Homo sapiens: one gene and its partners. The protein of the gene in region 1 interacts with the protein of each later gene in a pairwise test. Each region holds a gene or a part of one and is shown in the gene's direction. Other genes may lie near its edges.

Region 1 (3,500 bases):
TTGGAATGGTGAAAAGAGTCAGTAGTTGAGAGGGGGGCCATTCTGAGAGCTGGGAAAATCTGGGTTTAGGAGGCTGTGAAGTCAAGAAGACTCACACCTGGGAAGAAACTGATATAGCCAGACTCCTCCAAAGGTCAGGGTCAGGGAGATGGAGTGGTGGAGGCCAGAAGGAAGTGTGGGGGCATAAGCCATGAAAGACAGGGTGAGAGGAGAGACAGGCCCATCCCCCAAAGGAGAAGGCATCCTGTGTGTGTGTGTGTGTGTGTGTGTGTGTGTGTGTGTGTGTGTGTGTGTGTGTGTGTATTCTCCATATGCTGCTGTTTTGTTATGTGGAGGTTTTTCTAAAACCTGGCCAGGTGGTCACCCTGAGGGCTATAGTCCTCAGTACTGGGCCACAGCCAGTCATTTGTGAGTCCTCCCTTCCCCTTCCCTCTTTCTTTCCCTATGCTCCAGGTATTTTGGGAGTCAACAGGCCGCACCTATTGGGTGCACTGGCACATGCTGGAGATCTTGGGCTTTGAGGAAGACATTGAGGACATGGTTGAGGCTGATGAGTACCAAGGGGCAGTGGCCAGTAGAGTCCTGGGTAGAGGTGAGCTCAGGGAGGAAGCAAGGGTCAGCTCTGAGCAGAGGAATGGTGGTCCTGCTGAGTTGCTAGTGACATCCTTGTGCCCCTTGGCCCATTTTCACAGCCCTGCCTGCCTGGCGCTGGAGGCCCATGACAGAACTCTATGCTGTGCCTTATGTGCTGCCTGAGGATGAGGACACTGAGGAGTGTGAACACCTGACCCTGGCTGAGTGGTGGGAACTCCTCTTCTTCATCAAGAAGCTGGATGGACCTGACCATCAGGAGGTTCTCCAGATCCTCCAGGAGAACCTAGATGGGGAGGTAGAGCCAGCCTGGAGACACTCAGAGGTTGGAGGGCTCTATTGCAAGGGCTGGACTGTATAGAGCATTTGGAAGGCTCAGGATGAAAAGTGGAGGTCAGAGAGTGGAAGGGGCTGCAGAGGAGGGGTCTGGAATTTTCAGAGGTGGGAGGGTGAGCTGTTTGGGAGGAGCCAGCTGCCAGCTGTGAGAGGATCAGGATGGAGGGTATGTGTGCAGAGAGACCCCCACCCCTACCAAGTGCTCCCTGGGGCCTCTGGGTCGGCAGGGCTGTCTGCAGTGAGAGCTTCTCCTTGATGGCAGATTCTGGATGATGAGATCCTAGCTGAACTGGCCGTGCCCATAGAATTGGCCCAGGACTTGCTGCTGACTCTGCCACAGCGACTCAATGACAGTGCCCTCAGGGACCTGATCAACTGCCATGTCTACAAGAAGTATGGGCCTGAAGCCCTAGCAGGGAACCAAGCCTACCCATCCCTTCTAGAAGCCCAAGAAGATGTCCTCCTGCTAGACGCGCAGGCCCAGGCTAAGGACTCAGAAGATGCAGCCAAAGTGGAAGGTGGGTGCCAGACACAGCAGCTGAGCTGACACACCTTCAGGGCAGTAGCACAGGAGAGATGTCTGTGCTGATTTTTATGCAATCCTTTCTGGAAGTGATGCCACCTTAGAAGCTGCAACTTAGAGAGAAGCAACAAACGGAGAAGCAGGCATTGTGTTCCCTCAAAGAATGAAGGAGGATGTAAAGTTAGAAAATTGCAAGAGAATTTTGAAGACTTAAAAAAGCCCCCACATTTAGCTTTTTCTCTTGTACAGAAACATATTCCATGCTTTGAAATAAAGGGAAGTGCTCTCCTGTTTTCAGATGAAGCTACTTTGCTATTTTAAGAATATAAAGGCCGGGCATGGTGGCTCACGCCTGTAATCCCAGCACTTTGGAAGGCCAAGGCAGGTGGATCATGAGGTCAGGAGATCGAGATCATCCTGCCTAACATGGTGAAACCCCGTCTCTACTAAAACTACAAAAAAAAAAAAATTAGCCGGGCGTGGTGGTGGGCACCTGTAGTCCCAGCTACTGGAGGCTGAGGCAGGAGAATGGCGTGAACCCAGGAGGCGGAGGTTGCAGTGAGCCGAGATCATGCCACTGCACTCCAGCCTGGGTGACAGAGCGAGACTCCGTCTCAAAGAAAAAAAAAAAAAAAGAATATAAAATTTGTCATGAAGCTGTCTTACAATGACATTCAGAGATTAGATCCCCAAACCTAACTTTTAGGGGGATTAAAAAATTTAAAACATTTTTTAGGAGAAATTAGAGAAAAAGATTGAGAGTTATGAATCTATTTCTGAGCCTTCACATTACTAACAATGGCCAACTCCTGTGACTGTCCCCTTCCTGTAGCAAAAGAACCCCCATCTCAGAGTCCCAACACTCCCCTGCAGCGTCTGGTGGAGGGTTATGGTCCAGCTGGGAAAATCCTCCTGGATCTAGAGCAAGCCCTCAGCTCAGAGGGGACCCAGGAGAACAAGGTCAAGCCACTCCTGCTGCAGCTGCAGCGGCAGCCGCAGCCCTTCCTGGCACTGATGCAGAGCCTGGACACTCCGGAGACTAACAGGACCCTGCACCTGACTGTGCTGAGGTGAGAGCATGGTGACAGGTGGGATCTCTGAGGGCAAAGGGGGTCCATGAGGCTGGCTACACATTTCTCTGCCCCCAGAATCCTGAAGCAGCTGGTGGACTTCCCCGAGGCACTGCTGCTCCCCTGGCACGAGGCCGTGGATGCCTGCATGGCCTGCCTGCGGTCCCCAAACACTGATCGAGAGGTACCCCTGCCCTGCTCTGGGGAGAGGCTGGGGGAGAGGATAAAGGCAGCCACTGGCAAGGCACACCTGCTGGGCAAGGCTCTGGAGGGCGTGATAGAGCCTTTGAGCTCTTGGTTTGAGTTTTGCTTTTAAAATTGAATTTTATTTTTTTTAAATAGGTAATACATTCACATGGTTCACAAATCAAAACGCTCTAACAAGGTATACACTGAGAATTCTTGCTCTCACCCAAATCTCTGTTCCCCCAGGGTCCCCCACACACCCCTTACTGGTAACTACTTGTATTAATTTATGTATCTTTCCCGTGTTCCCTTATGCAAATATAAGCAAACCCAAATGTGTGATCTTGCCACTCTCTTTTTTACACAAAAGGATATGGAGATATTATTACATAAAACATTAAGAGCTTCAATAGCTCCATTTTTGGCTGGGCCTGTGGGAGAAAGGGGGATGAAGGAGGCAGAGCGCCCATCACATACCAGAGTCCCCTGCAAGAGCTACAGAGAAGTCCTGGGCACAGAAGGCTTCAGAAGGGCTCAGAGAACTAGGGTCATGGTGACAGTAGGTATTTGCAGTGTGGCTATATTTTTGGCTGTTACCTAGAATTTACTTTCTAAGGCAGGCTCATTGGGTATAATACACACACAAACCCAGTCCCTGTCAGCCCCTTCCCAGCCATCCAGGTGTCTGTGCCTGAACATCTCAAAACACAGCCCTACAACTGGTTTTTGGGACAGTAGGGCCTGGATGAAAGAACCCAGGGATGCTCTCTGCCGTTTTTGCCAACATAATCAGC
Region 2 (3,500 bases), on another chromosome or scaffold:
TTTTCCCAGGTGGACATCCAGGTGCGTGGCCCAGGGGCTTGCCCACAGGTCGAAGGCCTGGCAGGTCCCCACCTGGTGCCTGTGGGCTGGGAGAGCCATTTGGCCCTACGCGTGCGGAACCTTCAACATTTCCGAGTGAGCCATCAGGAGGGAAGGGGACAGGGCAGTGAGGTCTGCCAACAGCGTGTCCACACTCCTGACAGCGTCCTTCCCCAGGGCCTGCCTGCCTCCTTCCACTGCTGGCTGGAGCTGCCTGGAGAACTTCGGGGACTGCCGGCCACCCTGGAGGAGACAGCAGGGGATTCAGGCCTCATCCACTGCCAGGCCCACCAGGTGAGTGGCTGCCTTCCAAACCCTCTTGCCCCCAAGCTTCCGTAGACCCTCAGGGGTCTGCCATCTTTGTGGAGAGCCTGCTTGGGGCCCATAACCTCTGTCTGTGGGCCCCAGTCTTGGGGGAGAGGCAGGGAACAATCACATTCATTCTGGGGGGTGGCCCAGAGGAGACAAGAGTCAGAGGTGCCCTGAGTGGGCACCCAGCCTGACCCCACACTCTGCCCACAGTTTTATCCCTCCATGTCCCAGCGGGAGCTCCCAGTGCCCATCTACGTCACCCAGGGTGAAGCCCAGAGGCTGGACAACACCCATGCTCTTTATGGTGAGCCTGAGGGCAGCCAGGCAGGCGGGGCAGGGTGGGTGGCAGACAGGAGGCGCTCAGCACACTGCCTGACCCTCCCTAGTGATCCTGTACGACTGCGCCATGGGCCACCCGGACTGCAGCCACTGCCAAGCGGCCAACAGGAGCCTGGGCTGCCTGTGGTGTGCTGACGGCCAGCCTGCCTGTCGCTATGGGCCCTTGTGCCCGCCGGGGGCTGTGGAGCTGCTGTGTCCTGCGCCCAGCATTGATGCAGTGAGTCTCCTGCCGGGCCCCCACAGCCCAGTGGCCCACTTCTCCTGCCCCGCACTGTCCTGTCCTCCGTGATCAGACCAGCCCTGCCCCAGGCCCCCAAACCCCAGCAGCTCGGCCTGGCTGGGCTGGTTGGCTGGCCGGGCACCCAGCACTGCAGAGTGGAGCGTGGGTGCGGGGGACCCCATCTGCCATCATTTGCCTGCTGCAGGTCGAGCCCCTGACCGGTCCCCCTGAGGGAGGCTTGGCCCTCACCATCCTGGGCTCCAACCTGGGCCGGGCCTTCGCCGATGTGCAGTACGCCGTGAGCGTGGCCAGCCGGCCCTGCAACCCTGAGCCCTCTCTCTACCGCACGTCGGCCCGGTGAGGCACTTGGAGGGTGAAGATGGGTGGGGAGGCCCTCAGAGATGGCCACCCAGAGATAAGGAAGGCCTGTGGCCAAGAAACCTGGGGCACTCGGGTCAGGGGAGGGGTGGGCTGTCCCCTCCGTCCCTGAGCCCTGAGCAGCTCCCAGGCCTCGGCTTTCCAGGATTGTGTGTGTGACATCTCCTGCCCCCAATGGCACCACTGGGCCCGTCCGGGTGGCCATTAAGAGCCAGCCACCAGGCATCTCAAGCCAGCACTTCACCTACCAGGTCAGTGGCCTCCCAGGTGTGCCCTACGCAGGGGAGGGTAGGAGGGAGGGCCAGGAAGGACAGGCGCCTAGTAAGGATGTCAAGCTGGGTCTGCGGGGAGCAGGAAGCACCGCTGCATGTCTAGGAGGGAAGCCATGGCATGTGAGTGGAGGTGGGCAGCCAGGCCAGTCTGAGGCACGAAGCTCTCAGGATCTGTTGCCCTGGGCACTTGGTGGCACCGTTTCCTGGGTGGGAAGCCTGGGACAGGAGCAGTGAGGGCAGGGGTGGGTTCTGCCCAAAGAGGCAACTGGATTTGAGAGTTTAGAGCTCCAGGTCTGGGGGCTGTAAGCTGTGGTGGGGAGGAGGCTGTCCCAAGGGGGACAGAGTGGCAGTGAGGATGAAAGAGCCCCACTTCTACTCCCCATGCGGCAGGGGTGGGTGGGAGGAAGCTGGCCAGTGTGCAGTGGCCTCGGGAAGGAGGGCGTGGTCCACTTTGGCCCCAGGAGGTGAAGTCCAGAGATGACCTGCGCTTCAGAACCGGAGGGCCTTGGGCATGGCCCAGGGGGGTGAAAGGGCCAGGCTGGGCTGCCGTGCCTACCCAGCCTGCGCTGTTCGCCAGGACCCTGTCCTGCTGAGCCTGAGTCCTCGCTGGGGCCCCCAGGCAGGGGGCACCCAGCTCACCATCCGAGGTCAGCACCTCCAGACAGGTGGCAACACCAGTGCCTTCGTGGGTGGCCAACCCTGTCCCATGTGAGTCCCGGCCTGGCTGCCGTCGGGTGGTGGGCACTCCCATAGGCCTCAGTGGGGGTGGTACATTTAGAGAAGTGGTTGCTGTGGCCACCCCCAGTGGTCCCTGCCCTTGTCAAGGCAGGCAAAGCAGGGCTTCTCCTACGGGGGTTGGGCCAGGGCTGGGGTAGAGGGGTGGTAGAGCCGAGATGAGAGACCCCACTACCCATCCTGCAGCCTGGAGCCAGTGTGTCCGGAGGCCATCGTGTGCCGTACCAGGCCCCAGGCTGCCCCAGGAGAAGCAGCGGTCCTTGTGGTCTTTGGCCATGCCCAGCGCACACTGCTCGCCAGCCCCTTCCGCTACACCGCCAACCCCCAGCTTGTAGCGGCGGAGCCCAGTGCCAGCTTCCGGGGGTGAGGGTCAGCCCGCAGGCCAGCCTGTGCACCACGCAGGAGGGAAGGTGGGATGCGGGCTGGGCTATGTTGCCCACCGCCCGCCCACACCCGACTGCCATCCTGGTACAGGGGTGGGCGACTGATCCGTGTCAGGGGCACCGGCCTAGACGTGGTGCAGCGGCCCCTACTGTCTGTGTGGCTGGAGGCTGACGCAGAGGTGCAGGCTTCCAGGGCCCAGCCCCAGGACCCACAGCCAAGGAGGAGCTGTGGAGCCCCTGCTGCGGACCCCCAGGCTTGTATCCAGCTCGGTGGGGGGCTGCTGCAGGTGAGCCCCTCACCAGCAGGCGACAAGGCTGTCCCCGACCATGCCCATGCCCAGTGGGGAGGAGGAGGGTAGGCCGCCATGCCCCTAGCAGCGCACAGCAGAGCCCAGCTCACTCCACCTGTGGTCGGCCCTGAATGCCCCACAGTGCTCCACCGTCTGCTCCGTCAACTCGTCCAGCCTCCTCCTGTGCCGGAGCCCTGCTGTACCAGACAGAGCCCACCCGCAGCGGGTCTTCTTCACCCTAGACAACGTGCAAGTGGACTTCGCCAGTGCCAGTGGGGGCCAGGGCTTCCTGTACCAGCCCAACCCCCGCCTGGCACCCCTCAGCCGCGAGGGGCCTGCCCGCCCCTACCGCCTCAAGCCAGGCCATGTCCTGGATGTGGAGGTGAGGGCCACCTTCAACCCTGCCCCGCCACGGTGCTCAGGCCGCCTCTGTGGGGGCCAGCGGCTTAGGCTCCCATGTGTGTCCCAGGGCGAGGGCCTCAACCTGGGCATCAGCAAGGAGGAGGTGCGCGTGCACATCGGCCGCGGCGAG
Region 3 (3,500 bases), on another chromosome or scaffold:
TGAAAGCTTTGGAATGGTGTTCTAGAAATTCACTGACCTGTAAATATGTTATTCAGCAGTTTGGCATTGGCCTTACCTCAATTACCAGACGTCAACATCAGCCAAACCTTGAGGCAAATCATTCATCCTGCTAGTAGTCTTAAAATCAGTGCTATGGGGAAAATGGAATTGCAAAGTTGAAAAAGGAGACTGTTGACATTGGTCCTTAAGACTTCTGAGTTAGAAGATTAAGTAATCTTTTAGTAAATGCAATCAAAAAAGAATATGTAACTAATTATAAGTTATACTATTCTAATTTTTTAAATTGCCTTTCCCCCCATAAGAATTCTATGCAGTTATCATATATTTAAATCTGAATAGTATCTTGGCAAGAACTTAAGTATATAGCATTTTGGTTAATCACTTTTCGATTACAGTCATTAACCTGGACCATTTTGAGGAGGAAAAATCTTCAAATTTTGACTGTTGATCGATTTTTATTGCCAGAAACGACTCTTAAAGAATAAAGAATCAACAAATGGTTTGAGAGTACTTATTTGAGACTTATTAGTATTTCAATTTTTTTATCTCTTTATTTATTCAATGAAAATTCCTGGAGCCCTGCTTTATGCCAAGACTTGAGCTAACTGGGGCCTTAAATGGGAAAATAAAGAAGACTAAGACATTTGCTTGCTCTCAAGAAACTCAGAGTTTAGTGGCTTCTTTTCCTCATTAAAGGGTTCCTTTGTTCCTTTGTTGTTCTTGTTTTCTACTTGGAAAATTCTCCGTATCTTTTTTACTTTTTTTTAAGGTTTTGCTTTTTAACCTCTAAAACTTTAACTAGATCCCGATCTGGAATGCGAGACAAACGCATCTCAGAAGGATAACTGCTGATTTCCCTTCTGTTTTCAGTCTGCTCCCCTGGTTTTTATGGGCATCGCTGCAGCCAGACATGCCCACAGTGCGTTCACAGCAGCGGGCCCTGCCACCACATCACCGGCCTGTGTGACTGCTTGCCTGGCTTCACAGGCGCCCTCTGCAATGAAGGTAAGGCACGAAGCATCCCGGACAGCTGGGTGGTGATGAGCACGCCCCGGAGAGTCTGTCCTCAGGCCTCCCCTTGGCCTTCCTGAAGGCCATGTTTTCAGCTGTCTGCTGGGAATGTCTTCTGCTGTGCTGTGTCTGCAGCTTCTCAGATAGGACTTTGAGCTTTGGAAAAGCTGGCTTGCCACTCCAGCAAAACCTTTTTATTTCCTGAGATGTGCTACTCTTCAGTTTTAGCTGGACATGTCCTCCCATAAAAAATCAATATGCGGAAGAATTTTAGACTCCCAGAGCAAGAAGTCGTGAAGTCATATTTCTAGAAGTGCAATGATGTCCCCTGGTTTGTGATGCCTTAATGCAAATCTTTGGCTTCATGGATTTGTAAAAATGAGCCCATTCAAGATGAAGGATGCTGTTGAGCAGAGATAGCTACCAATGAGCAGCTGGGCCTGTGACCTTTAAAGTTATTTCCTGTGCTAAGATTCTAGGGTTCTGCGAGAGGGGTTTTGATTGTGAGTTACTGACCTATAGCTTATTCACAGTGTGTCCCAGTGGCAGATTTGGGAAAAACTGTGCAGGAATTTGTACCTGCACCAACAACGGAACCTGTAACCCCATTGACAGATCTTGTCAGTGTTACCCCGGTTGGATTGGCAGTGACTGCTCTCAACGTAAGTCTTGTTTGAGAACAATTAATAAACTGTTCTTATTTGTTTGTTTTCAGATTCTTTAGGATTGAAGTATGAGTGTTTTTATATAATCAAGAAAGAATATATGACTAATTAAAAGACACATTCTACTTTAAATTCTTTTTTTAAAATTCTTTTTTTTTTTCCCATTACGACCTCTATGCAATGGTCCTATGTTTAAATCCAAATAATGTCTTGGAAAGAACCTAAATATGTAACATTTTCCTTATCCCCTTTTCAGTGATTCATCGTCCATTGAAATAAAGCAAAAACAGCTGTATTGAGAAATCTATCTCTTCATTTTGTGTTTATCTGGAGAGTTAATTACAGAGAAAGAAAAAATGGAATTAAATGATGTGAGCCTTAGAAACCTATTGGGAACCTGAGCGAACTGCCCACCTAATATGCTTAGCTTCACCTTGGCATCACCCAAGTGCCTTCCACACCACTGGATTTCAGACAGGAATTGTGTGACCCTATAAGGGACTATATAGATGACTCTTAGAGCACCCATGTCATGAAAAAAATGACATCGACTATAAGTCATTCATGAATGTTTTGAAAGGGTCAGTGCAATGTCTAAAAGTATTCAACTTTTGACCAAAAAATAGCATATGTATGGAGTAATCTGGTTTCATTCATTTTAAATTTTATGAAACACTCTCAGTTTATATTGAATTCCCCCATCATGCACATAAGAGAAATCAAAGAATGACTGTGTGCAGTCATTTTACATGGTGCTTTATTGATAATTTAATTCAAACTTCACAGTTACAAGCAACCTGCAAATACTAATTGATGAGCAATATATTTTTTGCTGGAAGATTTTTTTCTGAATGTTAATTTTTTCCATAAGTAGTCCAGGCTGTACCCCATTTTTTAGGAATAAGGGAAGAGAGCTAATAAATCTCAGAAGTGTAGCTCTTTGGTGAAAGAAGTGTTATGCGATATGATTTCACTCCATTCTGGGGGCATCACTTCAGAAGAAATCAGTCTGTTTAAATCTACATGTGTTGCAAGGGCTCTGACTGATGGTTGGGCGTATGGGTTTGGGAAGAGTAAAAGGTCCAATATCATTGTCACAAAATGATTGATTTATATTGCTCCTTTAAAAAGTAGTCTTTATTTTGGAAATTTGTCCCTTCCTCATTTGGAGGAGGAATGTGCTGAAAGGAATAAAAATAGAAACACAACTATGAATGGAGACTATAGTGTTGCCTGTCCCAATAATCACTCCACAGGAAGCTGACTTATTTGGCAAAAGCCTTTGCTTCTCCTGGGGATCATTGATTTCATTGATTCCCTTATGGACTCTGTGGAACCATCTTCATATTTCTTCTTAGCTGATTGTGAGCCTGTCTAAAGAGAGCAAAGTCCTTCACAGTGAAAACACAGACTTTGAAAACTTAAAGGGGTACATTTAAAGGGGCAGGTGTCCTTGGGAAAATGATTTTTTAAAGCACTATCTCTACGTTTACCTTTTGGGAATATAAAGTTGAGTGATGCTTATTCCCATTCTCTGATCATAACAAATATAGGGAGAAAAACCTAATGGCAGTGGGTTACCTCAGAAAAATATATTGTGAACATAAATGGGTTTACAGAAGCTGGTTAAATATCATCTAAGGAATAGGTTGTTTTAGGTAAAGAGTGCTTCACTGAGCATCAAATGGGCTAGACGCTTCAACAGTTTTCACTGAGTCTCACTGTGGCTTTGGGAAAGCTGTATTTGTCTAACAAATAACAAATATTATTATTAATCTATGTGACCTTGTACGAGTCACTATT

The links.
Region 2: the proteins of CUL7 (region 1) and PLXNB3 interact in a two-hybrid assay, tested with the Homo sapiens proteins (one study listed by BioGRID and IntAct).
Region 3: the proteins of CUL7 (region 1) and MEGF10 interact in a two-hybrid assay, tested with the Homo sapiens proteins (one large-scale study listed by IntAct).

The regions. Positions count from the first base shown.
Region 1 is NC_000006.12:43,047,352-43,050,851, reverse strand, and holds part of CUL7 (cullin-7), read left to right. Parts: intron 1-453; coding exon 454-592; intron 593-692; coding exon 693-889; coding exon of another isoform or gene 890-916; intron 917-1,189; coding exon 1,190-1,445; intron 1,446-2,282; coding exon 2,283-2,520; intron 2,521-2,598; coding exon 2,599-2,704; intron 2,705-2,862; exon of another isoform or gene 2,863-2,875; coding exon of another isoform or gene 2,876-2,905; intron 2,906-3,500. UniProt on the Homo sapiens protein: Core component of the 3M and Cul7-RING(FBXW8) complexes, which mediate the ubiquitination and subsequent proteasomal degradation of target proteins. Core component of the 3M complex, a complex required to regulate microtubule dynamics and genome integrity.
Region 2 is NC_000023.11:153,770,749-153,774,248, forward strand, and holds part of PLXNB3 (plexin-B3 isoform 1 precursor), read left to right. Parts: intron 1-9; coding exon 10-135; intron 136-216; coding exon 217-333; intron 334-561; coding exon 562-655; intron 656-737; coding exon 738-907; intron 908-1,115; coding exon 1,116-1,267; intron 1,268-1,433; coding exon 1,434-1,539; intron 1,540-2,137; coding exon 2,138-2,268; intron 2,269-2,481; coding exon 2,482-2,658; intron 2,659-2,769; coding exon 2,770-2,965; intron 2,966-3,110; coding exon 3,111-3,350; intron 3,351-3,437; coding exon 3,438-3,500. UniProt on the Homo sapiens protein: Receptor for SEMA5A that plays a role in axon guidance, invasive growth and cell migration. Stimulates neurite outgrowth and mediates Ca(2+)/Mg(2+)-dependent cell aggregation.
Region 3 is NC_000005.10:127,433,796-127,437,295, forward strand, and holds part of MEGF10 (multiple epidermal growth factor-like domains protein 10 isoform a precursor), read left to right. Parts: intron 1-891; coding exon 892-1,026; intron 1,027-1,565; coding exon 1,566-1,694; intron 1,695-3,500. UniProt on the Homo sapiens protein: Membrane receptor involved in phagocytosis by macrophages and astrocytes of apoptotic cells. Receptor for C1q, an eat-me signal, that binds phosphatidylserine expressed on the surface of apoptotic cells. Cooperates with ABCA1 within the process of engulfment.